Homo sapiens: one gene and its partner. The gene in region 1 interacts genetically with each later gene. Each region holds a gene or a part of one and is shown on either strand. Other genes may lie near its edges.

Evidence for each region. Genes that interact genetically often act in the same process or in processes that back each other up.
Region 2: changes in BOD1L1 (region 1) and PDCD7 together harm fitness more than expected from each alone (negative genetic interaction), as found in Homo sapiens cells (one large-scale study listed by BioGRID).

What each region holds. Positions count from the first base shown.
Region 1 is NC_000004.12:13,571,095-13,576,695, reverse strand, and holds part of BOD1L1 (biorientation of chromosomes in cell division protein 1-like 1), read left to right. Parts: intron 1-3,853; coding exon of another isoform or gene 3,854-3,994; intron 3,995-5,601. UniProt on the Homo sapiens protein: Component of the fork protection machinery required to protect stalled/damaged replication forks from uncontrolled DNA2-dependent resection.
Region 2 is NC_000015.10:65,122,500-65,128,100, reverse strand, and holds part of PDCD7 (programmed cell death protein 7), read left to right. Parts: intron 1-5,601. UniProt on the Homo sapiens protein: Promotes apoptosis when overexpressed.

The sequences.
Region 1 (5,601 bases):
TGGGCACATAGTTCTTGGAGAACACATTTTCTGTCCTAAACCATTTTGGGGGATTGCCTCAAAGTCTTTACCAGGTTTTAAATGCCTATTTGGTGGAACCCATTCAATTCCTTACAAATATATTTTTTGAGCATCTGCCATCCTTCAGATGTCGTATTGAGCACCATTCATGAATATGGACATACATAAAACATCATCCCTGCTCTCAGCATACTTAATTCAACCCAGAAAGCAGGAGGAACCAGGCCCACGCACCGTCATCACATGCATCTCACCAGTGCTATGCAATAGGTTGATCATAGGAAAGTGCCCAAATTTGACCATTTTTGAGGTAATTTCATATATTTCCCAAAATGTGTTCTCTCAAACCCTATTGTAGCCAGAAACCTCTGAGAAAAAGAGTACCACGGTCAGATGAGTTTGGGAATGTCATTGAATTCTCTCTCCTTCCTCAGTTACATGTTCATTAAAATATTAAGGGTTTGGCAAACTCCAGGGCTGGGCGCGGTGACTCACGCCTGTAATCCCAGCACTTTGGGAGGCCAAGGCAGGCGAATCACGAGGTCCGGAGATCGAGACCATCCTGGTCAACATGGTGAAACCCCGTCTCTACTAAAATACAAAAATCAGCCAGGCATGGTGGTGAGTGCCTGTAATCCCAGCTACTCGGGAGGCTGAGGCAGGGGAATTGCTTAACCGTGGGAGGCGGAGGTTGCAGTGAGCTGAGATGGCTCCACTGCACTCCAGCCTGGTGTTAGAGCAAGACTCCATCTCAAAAAAAAAAAAAAAAAAAAAAAAAAGGGTTTGGCAAACTCCTAAAGGAAAGAAGCCTGTTGAACTTTGTTTAAACAAGCATTATTTGCTGATACCACTTTTCTGTTGTTGGCCTATATCATTATACCTGTTCACATCATCCAGTGTTCCTTTCCCCATGGCACATTTGAGAAATGGTACATAACTGTATTGTCTCATCCTAACCGTTAATCACTTTCCCAAACATGAATATTTTCCAGGCTGAGCACGGTAGCTCATGCTTGTAATCCCAACACTTTGGGAGACCAAGATGGGAGGATCACTTGAGCCCAGGAGTTTATGAGACCAGCCTGGGCAACACAGGGAGACCCCATCTCTACAAAAAAATTAGAAAATTAGCTGGGCATGGTGGCATGCACCTGTAGTCCCGGCTACTTGGGAGGCTGAGATGGGAGGATCGCTTGAGCCCAGGAGCTTGAGGCTGCAGTGAGCTGTGATCGCACCACTGCACTCTAGCCTGGGTGACAGTGAGACTCTGTCTCTGAAAAAATATATATTTTTTTAATTTTTAATTAATGTGATTTACAAGCTATTAATCTTGGTATCATCTTGTTTAATTTCATTATTCAAGATTGATCAAAAAGTTCAGGAAGATTTATTTCAAAAATAACACTAACAGCATAATATAATAGTATCTTGTGTTTACATAAAGAACTAAAATCGGGGCTGGGCACAGTGGCTCACACCTGTAATCCCAGCACTTTGGGAGGCTGAGGCCGGCGGATCACGAGGTCAGGAGTTCGAGACCAGCCTGGCCAATATGGTGAAACCCCATCTCTACTAAAAATATAAAAAATTAGCTGGGTGTGGTGGCACGTGCCAGTAATCCCAGCTACTTGGGAAGCTGAGGCAGGAGAATCGCTTGAACTCGGGAGGTGGAGGTTGCAGTGAGCCGAGATCACGCCATTGCACTCCAGCCTGGGTGACAGAGTGAGACTCCCCGTCTCAAAAAAAAAAAACAAAAAAAAACAAAAACTTAAAATCAATCTGTTTCTAATTCCTCCAGACTTAACACAGTATTAGCCATTTGTGCCATGGTTTGATTTCTCAAAGAATCAGATTTTAGAGCCAAAGGACTCTAGAAGCTCACACGGCTAAAGTTATAAGGTGGTCTCATATTTGTTTTTTTAGGTGGAGCAGCTCACATAAATAGAAAAGAAGTCACAGAATCCAAATTGCTGCTGCTAGGAGAGGGTGAGGGTGCTGGAGCCCAACACCCATGCATTTGGGTATAGCATCCATCCCACCAGAATTACTGCTTCCCTTTAAAACAGTTGTGGAAAGTAGGGCTCAACTCAGAGAAAGTTCCATAGGCCTTCTAGCCATCTTCGAGTGAGTGTCTAGAAATTGCTCTCAGATTTGCCTTTTATAAATTCTTTAAAAATAAATCTTATTTGATTTATATGGTTCTGTAATCACCTGGATTATCAAAGCTCTTCCTTCATGCACTTTATAATATAAACTTTTGATTTACAAATGAGTTGTTTTCTCTCTAGTTTAGATTCCTTGGCATTGGTTGATCAGTCCCAGGGCTCTGGTGTCTTCATAATTTTACAAATTGTCTGAGTTGGGTGGGCTCTCAGTGGTCATGTAGTACCAATAGCCAGTCAGTGCCTGAGTCACTGCACCTGCAGCTCCTCTGAAAGGGTCTTCCTGCTTTTGCATGGACCTCAGTGGCAGGGAAAGCCACATCCTCCTTAGCATTCTCTGACTTGTGTTCAGTAGAAGCCGGCCTCCCTGTGGCTTCTACTCTTGATTCTAGTTCGACTTTCAGAACCTTCTGTCTAATTTTGCCTTACATATTTGAGGGCAGCTTCCAGGTCTTCTCTGCTTGCTTATTGAGCCCCTTCATCATCCCTGTTTGTGCTCATCAGTTACCTTTATCCTCTTTTAGAAGCAAATGTGCAGCTGGGCGCAGTGGCTCATGCCTGTAATCCCAGCTACTCAGGAGGCTGAGGCAGGAAGATTGCTTGAGGCTGGGAGTTCGAGACCAGCCTAAGCAACATAGCAAGACCCTCTTAAAAGAAAAAATTAAATTAAATTAATAAAATATAAAAGAGGCCACGCACAGTGGCTCACGCCTGTAATCCCAGCACTTTGGGAGTCCAAGGCTGGTGGCTCACTTAAGGCCGGGTGTTCAAGACCAGCCTTGCCAATATGGTGAAACCTCATCTCTACTAAAAGTACAAAAAGTAGCCGAGCATTGTGGCAGACTCCTGTAATCCTAGCTACTTGGGCAGCTGAGGCAGGAGAATTGCTTGAACCCGGGAAGTGGAGGTTGCAGTGAGAAGAGATTGTACCACTGCACTCCAGCCTGGGTGACAGAGCGAGGCTCTTTCTCAAAAGAAAGAAAGAAAGAAAGATAGATAGATAGAGGCTCTTTCTCAAAAGAAAGAAAGAAAGAAAGAAAGATAGATAGATAGATAGATAGATAGATAGACAGACAGACAGACAGACAGACAGATAGATAGAAGCAAACTCTGTATACCAAGTGTGGTCTAATGAATCCAGAAGAGGACTGTTCTACCTTATTTTCTGGATATTGTTCTTCAGTGTGCATCCTCATTACTGAGCCTCAAATTGAAAAATACACCAGCTAAACAAGTTCCTTTTTCAGAGTTTTTACTGGAATCAGAATTCCTTATCTGATTCTTGTGCAGTTGACTACTTGGGCCTTAACACTTAGCCTTGTGAATTGTACTTTCGTTAATCTTGGCCCTTTATTCTACCCTGATGAGCTCTTTTGTAATCTTTATTTTGTCGGCCAGTATATTTTCTATTTTTCGCAGATACATCTTTTTTCTAAATCACAATAAAATATCATGCACAGTAAGAACAAAGATAGTGTCACACAAGCAGAGGTAGTTGTAGATGACATTAAGATCGACTTATCAGCAGTGGTCAGGAAAACCAACCATTTTTCTGATTTTAGTTCCTATTGTTCTGACTTGCCCACAAGGAGCCTCATACTTCCTACAGAGTTCCAGGGACTGGAGTATTCAGTGCTACCATTGCCCAGTGTTTCTATAATCTGTTTCAGAAAGCAACATAGCAAGCCATCTGCACGTGCAACATCCAAACTTGGCAGCCCAGACACAGTTTCTCCTAGAAATCGCCAAAAATTAGCAAAAGAGAAGTTACCTACCAGCGAAAAAGTTAGTAACTCTCCCCCATTAGGAAGGTAAGTCCCTGCTTACACTTCAAGCCATTTTTAACCCCCTAAGACTATTTTTGGTACAATAATGCTTTCTTCCTAATTTCCTTTAAGATTTTGTCTCACCAAATAACTGTTTTTGGGGATCATTGGTTTCCAAGAAGAACAGGAAGGGCTGCAGAAGGTGTCTGTGTGGCCTCACCAGTCTGGCCTTGCCGCAGTGGACTGCCACACAGGCTTGTCCTTGACACCTGTGAGCCTTATCTGCCTTCTCCCATCCACCAAGACCAAAGGCAAGGCAGTGTGGTAAAGCATTTAACAGCCCAGAATCATTTCTGTTTTAGCTAGAGCATTGGAGAGGTGATGAGGTGATAAAGCTTCCTCTTTCAGGCACGGCCCCTGCCAGCTTACACCTTTCACTGCAGCCTTACTGGTCTTACTGCTTCCCAGAGGTGGTCCTGAGCCTTCCTTTCTTGCCTTTGCTTGAGCCAGTGAGGAGTGTCCTCACCACCAGCACCCCTAGTAAGTCAGATCCTTTCCGTCCCGCTTCAGCCCATTTTCATCTCTTCTTGCTGCACTTCTGGTCAGTACTGGGCACTTGAGATGCCACATAGCATTGGTTTGGTATATTCCTTTTATTTACCCCTCTGAGCTCTAGGTTTCTTTCTTGAGATAGGAATTTGTCATACTTTCTATACATTATCATATTCAAAAATAAAAGACTCTTCACTGTACACAAAAACTGTTTTGACCTCTTACCACATTTTCATCTTCACAGCATACTTGTATGTATGTGCTGTTTTCCGCACATTCTAGAAACGAAAGCAAACTATAGTGCCAGGCAGTTTCACATACATGCTCTCATTTAACCCTCAGTGAGTGAATTGTAATAGTTACTCTTATTTTATATGTGAGGGAAAGAATCTCAGGAAGGTTTCCATGCATACTACTCAAAATTGAACATGCAGTCAAATCACTTGAGGCTGTTGGTAAAATGCAGATCCTGGGTCTGTAAGTCTAGGCTGGGGCCTGAGAGTTGGCATTTCCAACAAGCTCCTCAGTGACCAATGCCCCTCCTCACAGACCACATTCTGGGTGGACTAGAAGGGCCTGGATAAACTACGAAGCTCACATGGCTGGGGAGAAGCAGCCTGACTCAGAGCTTCTGTTGGCTGCCACTTGGCCCCCAGCACAATACTGCGCACGGCACCTTTACTGAAGAGGTGTTCATTGAGTGGCTGGTGGCTTTCCATGGAAACAGTTTGAAATGGATTATCAACAAACACATTTTCAGTCATTGTCAACACATGTCAAAACCACATCATCTGCAACAATTTTTGACTCAGTTTATTTACTTTTGCTGTCAAACAAGAAACGGAAGACGTGTCTTCATATCACTAAGAGTCCCATTTCTCCATCTCCTGCAATTTTGGTTTTCCAACTCTTTGATTCATTGACAGGACATTTACTGCCCGCTTGCCATGTGTTGGGCATTGCACTAGGCACTGGAGTTAGAAAAATGAATAAATCTCAGCAGCTGCCCTAGAGAATCATCGTGTCTAATGGGGGAGATATATGTGTATAAGACTTTCAAACTTTTTTGGCAACAACCCACTATAAGAATATTTTGCAAT
Region 2 (5,601 bases), on another chromosome or scaffold:
TTAGACCCTTAAGAAAGTTGTGTTGGAATATGACCATTTTGTATTCACCCAGGCTCGTTTGCTAGCTAAGTGATTGGCTTTTGCATACTAGCCTTCAGAGCGGCTAATTCACATCCAGACCTCAGAAACAGATGCCTCCATTGTGGTACTCTCAGGGCATTTGTAAATCAGAGGGAAGTTAGCATCTGCTTTGTCTACCCATCTCTTTTTCACTAGAAGGCAAAACCTGAGAGCTATTTAATATTCCCACACCTCACATCCTCTATGAGGTGAGTGCTCAGTAAACTTCTGCCAAGTGAATTTACCAGCATTTCCCAATATTAATCTTCCTCACTTTGGTCCAAAAGGAGGAGGAAATTTTAGGAAAATCATTATCTATAGAAATAAACAGACTTTGTGGCATTAAGTGACTTGAATGTAAAATGATTTGGTAAGTAGCAGCTGGTTGCATGCATATTTAAAATGAGCAGCTAACTTCTCTCTTCAAGATGTGTGCACCTCCAACTAAGTGCTGAATGATGAGGCTGGATGTTTAAGCAGGACCACGTTGCAAATTGTCTTATGGGCTATGCTAGAGTTCTCACTTATACTTAAAGCTTTGGGGAACCGCTGAAAGTTTTTTTTTTTTTTTTTTTTTGAGACGGAGTCTCGCTCTGTCGCCCAGGCCGGACTGCGGACTGCAGTGGCGCAATCTCGGCTCACTGCAAGCTCCGCTTCCCGGGTTCACGCCATTCTCCTGCCTCAGCCTCCCGAGTAGCTGGGACTACAGGCGCCCACCACCGCGCCCGGCTAATTTTTTGTATTTTTAGTAGAGACGGGGTTTCACCTTGTTAGCCAGGATGGTCTCGATCTCCTGACCTCATGATCCACCTGCCTCGGCCTCCCAAAGTGCTGGGATTACAGGCGTGAGCCACCACGCCTGGCCCCGCTGAAAGTTTTTAAGTGAAATGATGGCAAAGATCAGTGCCAGTAGAGCAGAGAAAGTTTTGGAGCATCCAGGAGAGAGAGAGAAGGGCAGAGAGATGGGTAAGGCTATTGGGCACGGGTAGTATGGAAGCATAAGCTGAGTGACGTCAGTGTGTAGGAGAATTGAGAGGTAATGAGTAATTCAAGTGATAGTGAATAATTGAGTAATTCAGAATTATTAGTGAATAATTCTCAAGTCAAAGAATTGAGAGATAATGAATAAAGGTATATGTGTATATACCCATGTACATATAAATAAATAATTTAAGGAACTCAGAGTACAGGAACTAAAGGGAAAAACAATGAAATGTCTTCCAGATTCTAGCCTCATCTACTGAATAAGTGAAGATAGCTTTTTTTTTTTGCTTTTTTTTTTTTTAAAAGACAGGGTCTTGCACTGTCGCCCAAGCCGAAGTGCAGTGGTGCAATCATAATTCACTGCAGCCTTATACTCCCAGGCAGGAGCGATCCTCCCACCTCAGCCTCCTGAGTAGTAGAGACTACAGGTGCACACCACCACACCTGGCTAATTTTTAAATTTTTTGTAGAGATAGAGTTTCGCCATGTTGCCCAAGCTGGTCTCGAACTCCTGGGCTCAAGCGATTCTCCCATCTTGGCCTCCCAAAGTTCTAGGATTAAGGGTGTGAGCCACTGTGCCTGGCCGATACCATTCTAATTAAGAAGGAAAACAAGGGAGGAGGAACAGGTTTAGGGTTGACAAGTTCAGTTGGGGACCTGTCGAGTTTGAGGTGTGTGTGGTACATCCTGGATAAGAGTTCATTAGCATGTAGCCATGAGTCAGAATGACCTTAAGGAGATTGTACAGCATGAGATGAGGGCCAAAAAGACAAAATCATAGGGAATGTCAAAATCAAGGTAGAAGATGAAGAGAGCAAAAAAGAGACCAAGAGAGGTCAGAGAGATGGGAGGAAAAGATAGACTCCCTGCTTCCTTCTGGAAAGTGGCAAGTGCTTAGAGAGAGATTGTGTAGTCTTGGTGATATGGTTTGGCTGTGTCCCCACCCAAATCTCATCTTGAATTGTAGCTCCCATAATTCCCACATGTCGTCGGAGGGACTTGGTGGGAGGTAATTGAATCATGGGGACAGGTCTTTCACATGCTGTTCTTGTGATCATAAGTCTCATGAGATCTGATGGATTTATAAAGGAGAGTTTCCTTGCACACGCCCTCTTTACCTGTCACCATGTAAGATATAACTTTGCTCCTCCTTCACCTTCCGCCATGATTGTGAAGCCTCCCCAGCCATGTAGAACTGTGAGTCAATTAAACCTCTTTTATAAATTACCCAATTTCAGGTATATCTTTATTGGCAGCGTGAGAATAGATTAATACACTTGGACAGGTTACTTGAGCTTCTCTGAACCTTTGTTTCCTCATCTGCAAAAAGGGAGTAATGATAGTACCTACCCATGGGGTGTCGTGAGGATTAAATTAATAAATATGTGTAAAGTACTTAAAACAGTCCTGGCACATAGTAAATGCTATATACATGTTTCATATTATTATTCTTTTTATTATCAAGAAATAAGGAACATCCATGGGAATTAGTATCCAACCGGTCATTAGTGACCTATGCTAGGGGCATTTCAGTGGAGTGGTGGGGGTAGAAGCCAGACTACAGTTGGTTAGAGAATGAATATGATACAAGAAAAGCAAACAGATAATTCAACTTATTAAAAGATTGCCTGTGAAGAAAAGGAAAGAGCAACATCAGTATCTGGCAAGGTGTGTGGTAGTGGTGATGGTGAGGGGTGTTGTGTGTCTTTGGGTCATGGGGAAAACTTAAGCATGGTTAAAATTGCTGAGAGGAGTGAGTAGAAGGGGAAGGGTCAAAGAGAAGCAGGAAGAATAGTTGATGGCTCAAGGTCCCATGGAAGGTAGGATGATTCAGATCCCAGGTGGAGGGATTAACTTAAGTGAAGAAGGACCCATCTTACACAAGCATGAAAATGAAGGAGATGAAGATAGGTAGTGATGCACATGAGTGTGTAAATGGGGACAGATATTTGAGGGATTTCCTGTCTGCTGGCCTGTTTTCTCTGGGAAACAGGGTAAATGGTTTGCTGAGCGCCAGTAGACAAGTGGGGCTTTAGGAGAGCAGTGAAGGTTTGATTTAATTGCTGTGAAGAATGGGTGAGAGCCAACAGAGACTTGTGGAAGATGGTTGCAGGGGGTGCTATGGGTCCAGCTGACATATATTGGCAATGGATGACACAATCAAATGACCTCTTCCAGTAGTACTGTAGCTGACAGGTGAGCACAGAGCACGGGGCTGTTGGGGTTTTGCTTTGTGGGGTGACCATTAGTTTTGTGGCGAAGGAGTAGCAGAAGGATAGAATCTGATACATCAGGTCCGGAGGTTTTGATGAAGCTGCCAAATGGGTCTCTGGGGAGAAGGAAGTAAAAGTACTATAAGGGAGAAAGTTGTAGTTGGATAAGAGAATAATCAAGTTTAAGATTTAAGAGGCAGAAAGTTTTTTCTGATAATGCCAAGGTCCACAGACTGAACAGGACTGCAGGCATGTGGCTAAAGGGGAATAGAGGCAAAGGCATTGGTGTCTAGGAGCTGCAGGACTAGGTGGACAGTGAGTGGTAGAAGTGGAGGGAACCTAGATGGTGCCAGGAGGAAGACTGTGTGAGAAGTGCTGTTTCTTTTTCTTTTTCTTTCTTTCTTTCTTTTTTTTTTTTGAGACGGAGTTTCACTCTTGTTGCCCCTGTTGGAGTGCAGTGGTGCAATCTCGGCTCACTGCAACCTCCACCTCCCAGGTTCAAGCGATTCTCCTGCCTCAGCCTCCAGAGTAGCTGAGATTACAGGCATGCACCACCACACCCAGCTAATTTTTGTATTTTTTTTAGTAGAGATGGGGTTTCACCACGTTGGTCAGGCTGGTCTCAAACTCCTGACCTCAGGTAATCTACCCGCCTCAGCCTCCCAAAGTGTTGGGATTACAGGTGTGAGCCACCACTCCCGCCCCAGGAGTGCCATTTCTGAGGGAATATGTTACATTGACCAGGGAGTGATCAGTGAGGGGCCGAGAGAGATGTGGGTTGGTGGCCCAGGCTCAGCAGCCTACATCTCTTCATGGGGTCTTTAGGCTAACATAGGATGATGGAGTATCTGTGTATTTCGCCATAGACAGATTTTAGTAGTTGCAACAGAGACTGTATGGCTTACAAAATCTAAAATATTTACCTGTAAAGGTAAAGAAATGAAACAAAACCGTTAGATTATTATAAAACAGAGTGACAGCTTAAATTTGTCAGTGTATAAGAATTTTGTGTATACTTGAAAAACACTGGCCTGGCAACTTAGTAGAAGATAAATTTGAGTTGTAGTGTTTCTGTAGTTGAGAATGAGTGAATGGAAACCTGTAGAAGCAAAGCAGTTAGGAGAAAATCATCTAGAGAAATGTTAGCCTTGAGAGTGAGTTCCACAACCACTTAGCTGTAGTGGTTGAAGGAGGAAAGAATCCTACCTCCAAATTACAACTTTACAAGAAACAGAACTACTAACCTTGAGAAACCATTATTTATGCCATTTATCAGCCCAAACTGAAAATTTAGTGCTCAAAGCTGGCACTATTGTATAACACAAGTTGCAGCATAAATTGTTAAAACCCTGTTGAAGGGCCGGGCATGGTGGCTCATGCCTGTAATCCCAGCACTTTGGGAGGCCGAGGTGGGAGGATCATGAGGTCAGGAGATCAAGATTATCCTGGCCAACATGGTGAAACACTGTCTCTACTAAAAATACAGAAATTAGCTGGGAATGGTGGCACATGCCTGTAATCCCAGCTACTCGGGAGGCTGAGGCAGGAGAATCGCTTGAACCCAGGAATCAGAGGTTACAGTGAGGTGAGATCGCGCCACTGTACTCCAGCCTGGTGACAGAGCGAGACTCCGTCTCAAAACAAAACAAACAAAAAAACCTTGTTGAAAATCATTCATTCATTGAAGAAGTATCTATTAATTACCTTCTCTGTGTCAAGTGTTTGGTAACTGAGCAAATATATAGCTTTTTTAGGAAGCAGTTTAGAACACAGTTTGTTAGTCTTGAAAGTATTCACAAACATTTCCATTTTTGAGAATTTTTCTTTCTTTTTTTTTTTTTGAGACAGAGTTTCACTCTTGTTGCCCAGGCTGGAGTGCCGTGGTGCGATCTCGGCTCACTGTAAGCCCCGCTTTCTGGTTTCAAGCGATTCTCCTGCCTCAGCCTCCTGAGTAGCTGGGATTACAGGCACCTGCCACCACGCCCGGCTAATTTTTGTATTTTTAGTAGAGACAGGGTTTCACCATGTTGGCCAGGCTGGTCTCAAACTCCTGACCTCGTGATCCACCCGTCTCAGCCTCCCAAAGTGTTGGAATTACAGGAGCCACCCTGCCCGGCCAAGAATTTTTCTGATAGAAATCCCTAGGAAGGAAAAAAGTAACATGCCCAAGAATATTCATTGTATCACAATATAATAACAGGACATTTGGAATAGCTTAGGTGTCCAGGAGTAGGGAACTTGATAAGTATATTCTAGTGTATTGATTTGATGAAATAGGATACAGCCATTAAATAATTATGAAGATTGGAGAAGAACGTACAGAATCAACAGGGAGAAGTGGAAA